Linked DNA regions of Homo sapiens. The protein of the gene in region 2 interacts with the protein of the main gene of each other region in a pairwise test. Each region holds a gene or a part of one and is shown on either strand. Other genes may lie near its edges.

Region 1 (3,656 bases), on a different chromosome or scaffold from region 2:
TCACTTATTATTAATATCAAGAACCATGGGAGGAAGAAGAGGATTTGCAGAAAGGGGAGCTCAGCTTTGTAGCTACTGACTTAGACAAACAGTAATGAAGGAGCTCTAAAGCCAGTTGAAAATGCAAGACTGGCCTGGAGGCAGGGCTAGGACTGGAGTCAGGGGACTGCCTGACTTGTCCCTGGCCCCCCGCTCTGCCTCAGGGTAAAGACTGGATTGTTTTCAGCATAAACACACTGATCATAACAGGTTAGGTTACCCAGACTAAGGGTAGAACTGGATAATTATGTACATCTAGGGTACTATTTTTACACTTCAATTTTAACATATAATAATTATACATATTTATGGGGTACAGAGTTGTATTTCTACACATGTATAAAATGTAATGGTCAATTCAGGGTAATTAGCATATCTGTCTCCTAAACATTAATCATTTCTTTGTGTTGGGAACATTTAAAATTCTCTCCTAGCTGTTTGAAAATATGCAATAAATTATTGTTAACTATAGTCATCCTACAATGCTATAGAGCACTAGAATTTATTCTTCCTATCTAATGTAATTTTGTATCCATTCACCATCCTCTCTCCCTATCTCCCCTCCACTTCCCAGCCTCTAGTAACCACAATTCTAATCTCCACTTATGTGAACACAACTATTTTAGGTCCGCATACGAAGGAGAATGCGCGGTATTTGTCTTTCTGTGTCTGGCTTATTGCACTTAACATAATGTCCTCCAGGCTCATTAGGGTACTATTTTGCAATTTTCTTTTCTGTAACTGAAACACACACACACATATACAATGGAAATTAAAGCTGCTTTTTTTTTTAAGTCTCTTGAAACAATTTTTACCTGTATTATATGCACTAGACTTACGACTATTTAATTATATTTGCATTAACAAAGAAGTGCTGGACTGGGCTTAGTGGCTCATGCCTGTAACCCCAGCACTTTGGAAGACTGAGGCGGGTGAATCCTTCGAGCTCAGGAGTTCGAGACCAGCCTGGGCAACATGGTGAAACCCGTCTTTACCAGAAATACAAAAATAAATTACCCAGGTGTGGTGGCATGCACTTGTGGTCCCAGCTACTCTGGAGGCTGGGATAGGAAGATCACTTGAGCCTGGCAGGCAGAAGTTGCAATGAGCCAAGATTGCACCAGCACCATTGCATTCCAAACTGGGTAATAGAGTAAGACCCCATCTAAAAAAAAAAAAAAAAAAAAAAAAAGCTGCTTGGGACCTACTGAGTTAATTTCATGATTATTAGTGAAATCAATCTGAAAAATACAAATATTCTAGGGTATTGAACCAACTGGAAGTCTTGAAGTGTTTTAAAGAGACTATAACCGATGTTATGGAGAATTAAGATAAAGACAGAAACAACTTGTGAATTTGGCAACTAGGAGGTCCTTTGTGACTTGAGAGTATAATTTCCATGCAGTGATTGTGGTTGGAGGCCAGATCACAGAGGCCTAAAGAGTCAGCAGTGTCATAGCCAACAGATACAGTACTGAGTTCTGCTTGCCTTTAAGTCATTACATCCCCAAACAAACCTTAGGAGGGAGAAGCTGTTATTACCCTCAGCTTTCCATTATAGGTAAGGAAAGTTATTTTCAGATGGGCTAAGTAACTTGCCCAAGGCCACATAGTGATGGAGCGCATCCGTCTGACAGCACAGCCCATGCTCCTGTCTGCAAGTCACCATCAGTGGCTCTTTGAAAGCAAAGTGAGGAAGAAACATGTCAGTTGAGAGGGTGGCAGAGTGGAAAAGAAGGTTAGTGTGTTATGTGTGGTCATGTTACTGGGGCCTTGGAGATCACTTCGTTCTGCTTTTCATTTTGTAAATGAGGAAACAGGCCTCGAGGCGTAAGGATTCTTAGGCAGGGTCACACAGCTAGTTATGCAAAACTGAAACCAGATTCCAGGTCTGACGTCGGTATGGATCACCTTCAAGCACTGCGTAGAATTCTTTCGTTTTTACTTTTTACTAAAATTATTTTTAATATAGTACATTATTAATGGTATCTTAAGCCTTGGCCCTTCAGATATTGTTCAGTAAGAGTGACTTAGGGGCTTTTTTTTGTTTTTTGTTTTGGTAACAGGTTTATTGAGATTCAATTCACATGCCATAGGCAATTTACCCATGTAAAGTGTACATTTTAGTTTTAGTATCTTCAGAGAATTGTACAGTCATCACCAAACTCAATTTTAGAACATTTTTATCATCCCCAAAAGAAACCTTCAACCACTCCTCCCCTGTGTTCTCCCAACTCCCTAGCCAGCCCCGGGCAATCGCTTATCTACCTTCTGTCTCAACAGATTTATCCATTCTGGACATTTCCTATAAATGGAATCATAGAATGTGTAGTCTTTCATATCTGGCTTCTTTCACTTAGCATAATATTTTCATGTATCAATCAGTACTTCATTTCTTTTTTCTTTTTTCTTTTTCTTTTTGGTAGAGATAGGGTCATGATATGTTGCTCAGGCTGGTCTTTAACTCCTGTGCTCAGGTGATCTCCAGCTTCGACCTCCTAAAGTGCTGAGGTTATAGTTGTGAGCCACCATACCCAGCCAGTACTTCATTTTTTTTGGTTGCTGGCATTAGCCTTTTCTCCAAGGAACCTGGTTCTATTAAAGATTTTTTATTTGTCAGTCTATATGCTATTTATTAGGCATGGTGGCTAATGCCTGTAATCCCAGCACTTTGGGAGGCCGAGGTGGGCAGATCACGAGGTCAGGAGATCGAGACCATCCTGGGCAACATGGCAAAACCCCGTCTCTACTAAAAATACAAAAATTAGCTGGATGTGGTGGTGCGTGCCTATAATCCCAGCTACTCGGGAGGCTGAGGCAGGAGAATCGCCTGAACCCAGGAGGCAGAGGTTGCAGTGAGCCGAGATCGTGCCACTGCACTCCAGCCTGGTGACAGAGTGAGACTCCATCTCAAAAAAAAAAAAAAAAAAAAAAAAAGTTACTGTTTTCTATTAGTAATTTATTCATTTGTTTTGATCATTATGGGTTCAACATCTCATTTTGTTTGAGGGGTTGTAAGTCATACTATTATTTATTTTGATGTTGAGATTATTTCAACTTTGGCCCATGAGAGCTGCTTCAAGTTGGCTTCCATGGCATTTTGACATGTTCACGATTCTTTGAGCACTTTACTACTTTGTGATGCGGGATTATTCTAGGCTCATCTTCTGTCTCTCTTGCTATAAGCCTGTTCTCCAAGGAACCCACGCTCTTTTAAATATTTTTATCCATTAATCTGTTTACTCATCTGTTAATCTATGAAAAACCATGAGTTTCTCCTGATACCTTCAATTCCAGCCTAATACCACAGGGCTCATTCTTCCCCCTTTCATGTTTGTAACTTACTTCCCAGAAGTTAAGAACCTGGCTCTCATTACCCTCAATATGTTTACTCCTTTTCTCAATCCTAGAGGTCACATAAGATAGTCTCAGAATTGCTAGCCCATACCACTACAGAAAACAAACCTGCTAACTGGAATTGAATATTTTTGTACAATGCCTATTAAGTGAAATGGGTATACATGGAGTGCAGATTTTAAGTATACAGTGCAAAGAGGGAGTATTTCTTTTCTTTTTTTTTTTTTCTTTTAAGACAGGGTCTCGTTCTGTCTCCCAGG
Region 2 (3,656 bases):
GTGGTGTTTCACCATGTTGGCCAGGCTGGTCTTGAACTCCTGACCTCAGGTGATCCACCCGCCTCAGCCTGCTGGAATTACAAGCATGAGCCACTGTGCCCGGCCATGAACCAGTGCTTCTAAGAGAACTCTGACTGCATTCTCATCTGCTTGGCTTGAATTCCCTTACCTGTGTGCCAGGGGGCAGGCCTAGTCAGTGAATATGTGGACAGGACTGGGAGGGAGGGAGGGAAGAGTCTGTAAAAGATGGGCAGTACCTTCCATATGCTAATTTGTTTCCTTCCTGTGATACTGGGGTCTGGAGGGTGGAGGCATGGCCTAGGCAGGCTCTTAAGCATCCCAGACACATTTATTTTTCCTGAATCAAACTCAGCCTCAGGCAGTGCCAGACCCAGAAGAGGGCTCTTCAGCACCTAGAAGCTGGAAAGGGATGAACAGGTAAGACTATTAGGGAATCTCTTGTTGGGAATTTGACATCTTAGAACATTCTGCAACCTTTTGCCTGGGAAATGGAAACAGATCTAATCTTTACCACCCTCATGGCTCAAGGACCTCATCTGGCAGCCTGGCTCATGTTTTTCAGCCAAGTAGCTTCCAGCTTACAGCAGCCCTCAAATTTGGACCTGCCACCAGCTCCAGAGCTTGACTGGATGGAGACAGGACCATCTCTGACATTCATTGGCCATCAGGTACAAAGGATAAGCAAGCCAGAAGAGGGCCAATGGTCCCTCAGGTCTCAGGACCCCTTTCTCCTGATTTTCTACCTATTCAAGCCACTGCTGCCTCCACTGCAGGCTTTTCCTTCTTCCTTCACTGTTCCCTAGTAGTGTTCTCAGACCTCTTCTCACCCTCCAAAGCGATCCTATTCACATGTATTGACACTTAGGAGTGCCAACTCCTAAATCTTGCCCTCTGTAGAACTCATAGTTCCAACTCAACACAGGACATTAAATATCCCACAGGCATCTGAAACTAACCCCCACCACTCCTATATTTCCAATCACTAGATGCAGATCCTTTCCTTTTCCATCTCCCATATCCTGTCAACAAGCGGTCAATTTTAACCTGTCTGCCTCCATTCAGCCTTTGGGCAATTTCTACTCCCCCTTCAATCCTGCCTCACAAACAGAAAATCATTGTACCACTTATGATTTTACTCTACACTTCAGCTGTATTGTGTTGCTTCGGGCTTTTGCAGTTGCCATTGTCTAAAACCTGCTTTCCTTCCCTCATCACCTAGTTTACCTTCAACTGTTAGCTCAAATGTCACTTTTTCATAAAAGGCTTATCTGAACAGGTTATCTCTATTTCAAGTGGATGTAGCACCATGTAAAGTTGCAAATGTAATTTACGTAACTTGTGCTTAATGCTCTTCCCCAATTATATGTATGCTGTGAGGGCAAGGTTTTGCTCCCCTGGCATGTAATAGCCACTCTACTTACAGACATCTCCACTGTTATGACTGTGAGCTTCCTGAGGACAGGGTTGTCTTAGAGTGACTTACTGTGCTTTCAAAGTTTAACATCAGCTGGGGTGCAGAATTAGCATTGTGGCAGCAGTCACACCCACCTCTTTTAAAGTGTGCTTTGTCTATCGTTTCTAGGATTTTTTTTTTTAATCATGCCTAGACTTTAACTAGCACTTTTTTTCCCATTTCCAACTACAGGATATACCAGGAGTTGGTAACATCCACTCAGGTAAGGTCCAGGGCAGTGTTTTTAAAACCCTGGGAGATTTTTTTTTTTTTTTGAGATGGAGTCTTGTTCTGTCGCCAGGCTGGAGTGCAGTGGCGCAATCTCAGCTCGCTGCAACCTCTGCCTCTCAGGTTCAAGTGATTCTTCTGCCTCAGCCTCCCAAGTAGCTGGGGTTACAGGTGTGCACCACCACACCCAGCTAATTTTTTTTTTTTTTTTTTTGAGACGGAGTCTCGCTCTGTCGCCCAGGCTGGAGTGCAGTGGCGGGATCTCGGCTCACTGCAAGCTCCGCCTCCCGGGTTCACGCCATTCTCCTGCCTCAGCCTCCCAAGTAGCTGGGACTACAGGCGCCCGCCACTACGCCCAGCTAATTTTTTGTATTTTCAGTAGAGACGGGGTTTCACCGTTTTAGCCGGGATGGTCTCGATCTCCTGACCTCGTGATCCACCCGCCTCGGCCTCCCAAAGTGCTGGGATTACAGGCATGAGCCACCGTGCCCGGACTTTTTTTTTTTTTTTAAATAAAGTTGGCCAAGATAAAGCGTATGTATCGGTAAAAGCCTTATATCCAGAATATATGAAGAACTGTCAACTTGATAAGGAAACAACCCAATAAAAGCATATGAATAATGTTCAACATTAGTCATTAGAGAAATGCAAATTAAAACCACAGTGAAATACCACTACATATGTATTGGAATGGCAGAAATTAAAGACTGATCATGCCAAGTGTTTGGCAGTGTAGAAAAACCAAACCTTCATACACTGCTCTTAGAATGTAAACTGGTACAGTCACTTTGGAAAACAGTTTGGGATACACCTACCACATTATCCAACCGTTCCACCCCTAACTAGAGAAAAGAAAGCCTGTCTACATAGACTTGTACACAAATCTTCAGAACAGCTTCACTTGTAGCAGCTCCAAATTGGAAACAATTCAGATGTCTATCAACAGGCAAATGGATTAACAATGGAATAGTATTCCAGGATGAAGACAGAATTATTGATACGTACGACACAGATGAATCTCAGAAGTCCAGACCTGGCCGGCGTGGTGGCTCATGCCTGTAATCCCGACACTTTGGGAGGCCAAGGCAGGCGGATCACGAGGTCAGGAGTTCAAGACCAGTTTGGCCAACATGGTGAAACCCCATCTCTACTAAAAATTCAAAAATTAGCTGGGCATCGCAGCGCACGCCTGTAATCCCAGCTACTTGGGAGGCTGAGGCAGAATTGTTTGAACCGAGACCTGGGAGGCGGAGGTTGCAGTGAGCTGAGATTGTGTCCAGCCTGGGCTAGAGCGAGACTCCTCTCAAAAAAACAAAAGGCCAGACCCCACCTCAATGTCCACACACAGAAAATCCTAAAAAATACAAACCAATAAAGCAACTGAAAGATCACCGATTGCCTGGACATGAAAATATTTTAATGGGGGCAGTGATACTTACAGGGGGATGTTTGGGGTCTAGATTGTAATGGCTTCGCTCAAAAGTCACCAAATTTAAGTGTGTATCGTTTATGTCAGTTGTGCCTCAAAGCCATTTTAAAATGACTGTCACATATGGGGTATGTCGCTTTAAATTAGCCTAGGGCCTTCTAAAGCTCCAGAATTCCTGGGCTTTGCTTTTAGACATTTCTAGCTCTTAATGAGGAGAGGTAAGCTAACAGCTAGGACATGTTTCACAATAGCCTGAAGACTTAAAAAAAAAAAAAAAAGCCTTAATTTTTTTTTCAGGTGCCACACCTCCCTGGATGATCCAAGATGAAGAATACATTGCTGGGAACCAAGAAATAGGACCATCCTATGAAGAATTTCTTAAAGAAAGTAAGTAAACTAATTCAAGAGAGGATCGTCTAAATCTTCACACTCAAAAATGGTTTCCTTGCCTGTGTGTGGTGGCTCATGGCTATAATCCTAGCATTTTGGGAGGCTGAGGTGGGAGGGTCACTTGAGCCCAGAAGT
Region 3 (3,288 bases), on a different chromosome or scaffold from region 2:
AAGATCCTGTCTGTCTGCAGCTAGATGATATTGTAAGTGAATGTCTAAAATAATTGGTTTTTATTAATAATCTGTATATTCTCACTTCAGCATCTGAGTAGTACATGAGAGGGAGTAGTCAGGGTTGGGTATATAGCTGTTCATTTGTTAGTTCACTAAGAGCTGATTGTGTGCCTGCCCTGAACCAAGCCCCCAAATCTGTGTGTGCTGAATCTGTCTTGGATGTCCTTACCCACTAGAAGCTGTCAATGCTGTTTCACCAACAAGGTGATGGAAGAGCAGAAAACTATTAACAAGCATCTGTGAACACTATCTTTTCAGTGCTCGCAATAGTGGGATAATAGTAGCCCCATTTCCCAGTAGGAAAAAAAAAACCAGAGAGGTCAAGTAATTTCCCACAGGTGCAGATCCACTATATTGCAGAGTTGAGATTTGAACTCAGTTTTCTGTAGCTGCAAATAATCTTTTCTAGTGTGCTGCCTCCAGTATGTGCCTGATGCAGAGAGAGACCTAACCCAGAACTAAGACCTCTTACCGCCATTTCTACTGCTACCATCCCGTGTAAGAGCTGAGCGTACAAATCCTCATTTCCGTGGTTACAATGAGGGTGTGATGTGTTAGCTTGGGGAAAAAAGGACCAGAGGATTCTACCCTCAGTCATAAGCAGGAGGAAATACCACAGAGGTCAGTGATGTAGACACTGAAGCCACACTGCCAAAGTTCAAACCCCAGCCCTACTGCTCAGGAGCTGTGTGACCTGGGGCAAATTACTTTACCTTCCTGTGCCTCAGTTTCCCTATCTATAAAATGGGGACTCTGATAGCATATACCTTATAAGAATGATGTAAGGATTAAATGAGTTAACAAATGTTAAGCACTTAGGACAGTTACCACATAGTAATGTTATATAAGTGTCTGCTACTAATTATCGTGGTTTTCATTTCTGGGAGGATTGGGAGGAAGGAGACGTTAGGGAATTTCAGTATCCACATAACATATTTCTAAGTTGTGTTGTTTTAAATGAGCATGGGCTACTTTTATAAAAGCATTCAAAGAAAGAAATTAAAGGAAGAAATAGATTCACACAGTTTTCCCCAAGGATTTGTATGCTCAGCTCTTAACACGGGATGGCAGCAGTAGAAATGGCGGGTAGAGGTCTTAGTTCTGGGTTAGGTCTCTCTCCACAATGAATAGACAGGAATACTCCCATGCTGTCACCCTCCTAAACTCACACAGTTTTCCCCAAGGTCCCCTTCTAACCTCACACAGTTTTCCCCAAGGTCCCTTCCTAACCTCATACAGTTTTCCCCAAGATTCCCTCCTAACCCCGTTGCAGTGAATGAGACTCTGGAGGATGGGGTTATGCTTTGTCTAATGTGGGAGCCACATGGGCTGCATTGTTGGCCCAGGAGTTTTTTCAAACAAAACACTCTGTTGTAGTAACAAGTTTCACAGAAGAAACATTAAGCTGCCTCTCATATTGTAACCTTTGTCTCTCTCGTCATTTGCAGCTTTCTAAGACCTCTTCTGACTTAAGTAAAATGGCTGCTATATACCTGGTAGATGTGGACCAAACTGCAGTTTATACACAGTATTTTGACATCAGTTATATTCCATCTACTGTCTTTTTCTTCAATGGGCAGCATATGAAAGTGGATTATGGGTAAGTGCAGTTGATCTGAAGTTAATTGCAACCTTGTAAGTTTCCTTGGTAAGCATTTTCAGTAGCTTGCCTATTTCCATGTGATGTTGGCTCTGTGAGTCTTATATCAGTACTGTTTCCCCAATTGACGCACTCTCTAATTTTTTATGCAAAACCTTGCTACAAAATGAGAGTGCTTCTGGTATGATTGTCAAATTTTATTTATTTTTTTAATAGTGCATACACATGGTTTGTCAAATTTTAATTTCCGACTTAAGTATGAAGAAATAGTACAGGTGGCAAAGCACTACCATCCATAAGTCTATAAAATATAAAATAGCCATATTAGCTAAATAAAGAACTCTTAAAATTTTCCCAGGAATTTCATTTGAAACAAAACATGTAGTTTTTCTTAAGCTTTTGGACTGGTAAGTGGCATTTATGAAAGAAACATTCCTTCTAGCAAACTAAGATGTGCTTCTCTCTTGCAAAGTTTCCTGCTTTTCGCCATTGAATTTTAAATCATTCTTCAACAAAGCCTGTCAAGAATAAGTAACATGATGTCCTCTTTAGTGCCTTCCACTCCATCCAATTACCATCTCAATACTTAATATTGATGATTGGGTGCATCCATGATTCTGATCATTTCTTACTGTGGTTGATGTGTCCACTTATCTAGATCTGTGTACCCTTTTTGTCTTTATTTGAAAGTATGTGAAATATTATCTGTTTTAAAGTGTTTTAGGCTGGGCATAGTGGCTCACGCCTGTAATCCCAGCACTTTGGGAGGCCAAGGCAGGCGGATCATTTGAGGTCAGGAGTTCAAAACCAGCATGGCCAACATAGTGAAACCCCATCTCTACTAAAAATACAAAAATTAGCCAGGCATGGCCAGGCGCAGTGGCTCACGCGTGTAATCCCAGCACTTTGGGAAGCCGAGGCAGGCAGATTATGAGGTCAGCAGATCGAGACCATCCTGGCTAACACAGTGAAACCCTGTCTCTACTAAAAATACAAAAAATTAGCTGGGCGTGGTGGCGGGCGCATGTAGTCCCGGCTACTCTGGAGGCTGAGGCAGAAAAATGGCATGAACCCAGGAGGCGGAGCTTGCAGTGAGCCGAGAGCGCGCCACTGCACTCCATCCTGGGCAACAGAGCTGCCGTCTCAAAAAAAAGATTAGCCAGGCATGATGGTGGGTGCCTGTAATCCCAACTACTCAGGAGGCTGAGGCAGGAGATTCGCTTGAGCCCAGGAGGTGGAGGTTGCAGTGAGCAGAGAACGCACCACTACACTCCAGTCTGGTGACAGAGCAAGGCTCCATCGCAAAACAACAACAACAACAACAAAAAAAAAACACAAAAGTATTTTAAAGCTGTTTATTCTACTGGAACACATTTGATGTAAGTATTAATTTGGTACAACCTTTTATGGGGGCCAGTTCAACATTATGTATCAAATAGTTTAAAGTTTTTAAACTTTTTAACCCAGTAATTACACTTCCAGGACTTTAATATGATGTTGCAGATGCACATTTAACAAATGAAAGAAATATATGTCAGCTAGAAAAAAGCATATTACTGAATAATTTGTATGACATAATTCCCAATGTTGGGAAAAAAGAAGTTTGTATCTGCACATACACACAC

The links.
Region 1: the proteins of CENATAC (region 2) and MESD interact in binary tests that used the Homo sapiens proteins (3 or more experiments, as listed by UniProt).
Region 3: the proteins of CENATAC (region 2) and TXNL4B interact in binary tests that used the Homo sapiens proteins (3 or more experiments, as listed by UniProt).

What each region holds. Positions count from the first base shown.
Region 1 is NC_000015.10:80,983,215-80,986,870, reverse strand, and holds part of MESD (LRP chaperone MESD precursor), read left to right. Parts: intron 1-3,656. UniProt on the Homo sapiens protein: Chaperone specifically assisting the folding of beta-propeller/EGF modules within the family of low-density lipoprotein receptors (LDLRs).
Region 2 is NC_000011.10:119,011,566-119,015,221, forward strand, and holds part of CENATAC (centrosomal AT-AC splicing factor), read left to right. Parts: intron 1-373; coding exon 374-438; intron 439-583; coding exon 584-689; intron 690-1,666; coding exon 1,667-1,697; intron 1,698-3,428; coding exon 3,429-3,518; intron 3,519-3,656. UniProt on the Homo sapiens protein: Component of the minor spliceosome that promotes splicing of a specific, rare minor intron subtype. Negative regulator of centrosome duplication.
Region 3 is NC_000016.10:72,087,362-72,090,649, reverse strand, and holds part of TXNL4B (thioredoxin-like protein 4B), read left to right. Parts: coding exon 1-32; intron 33-472; exon of another isoform or gene 473-561; intron 562-1,511; coding exon 1,512-1,663; intron 1,664-3,288. UniProt on the Homo sapiens protein: Essential role in pre-mRNA splicing. Required in cell cycle progression for S/G(2) transition.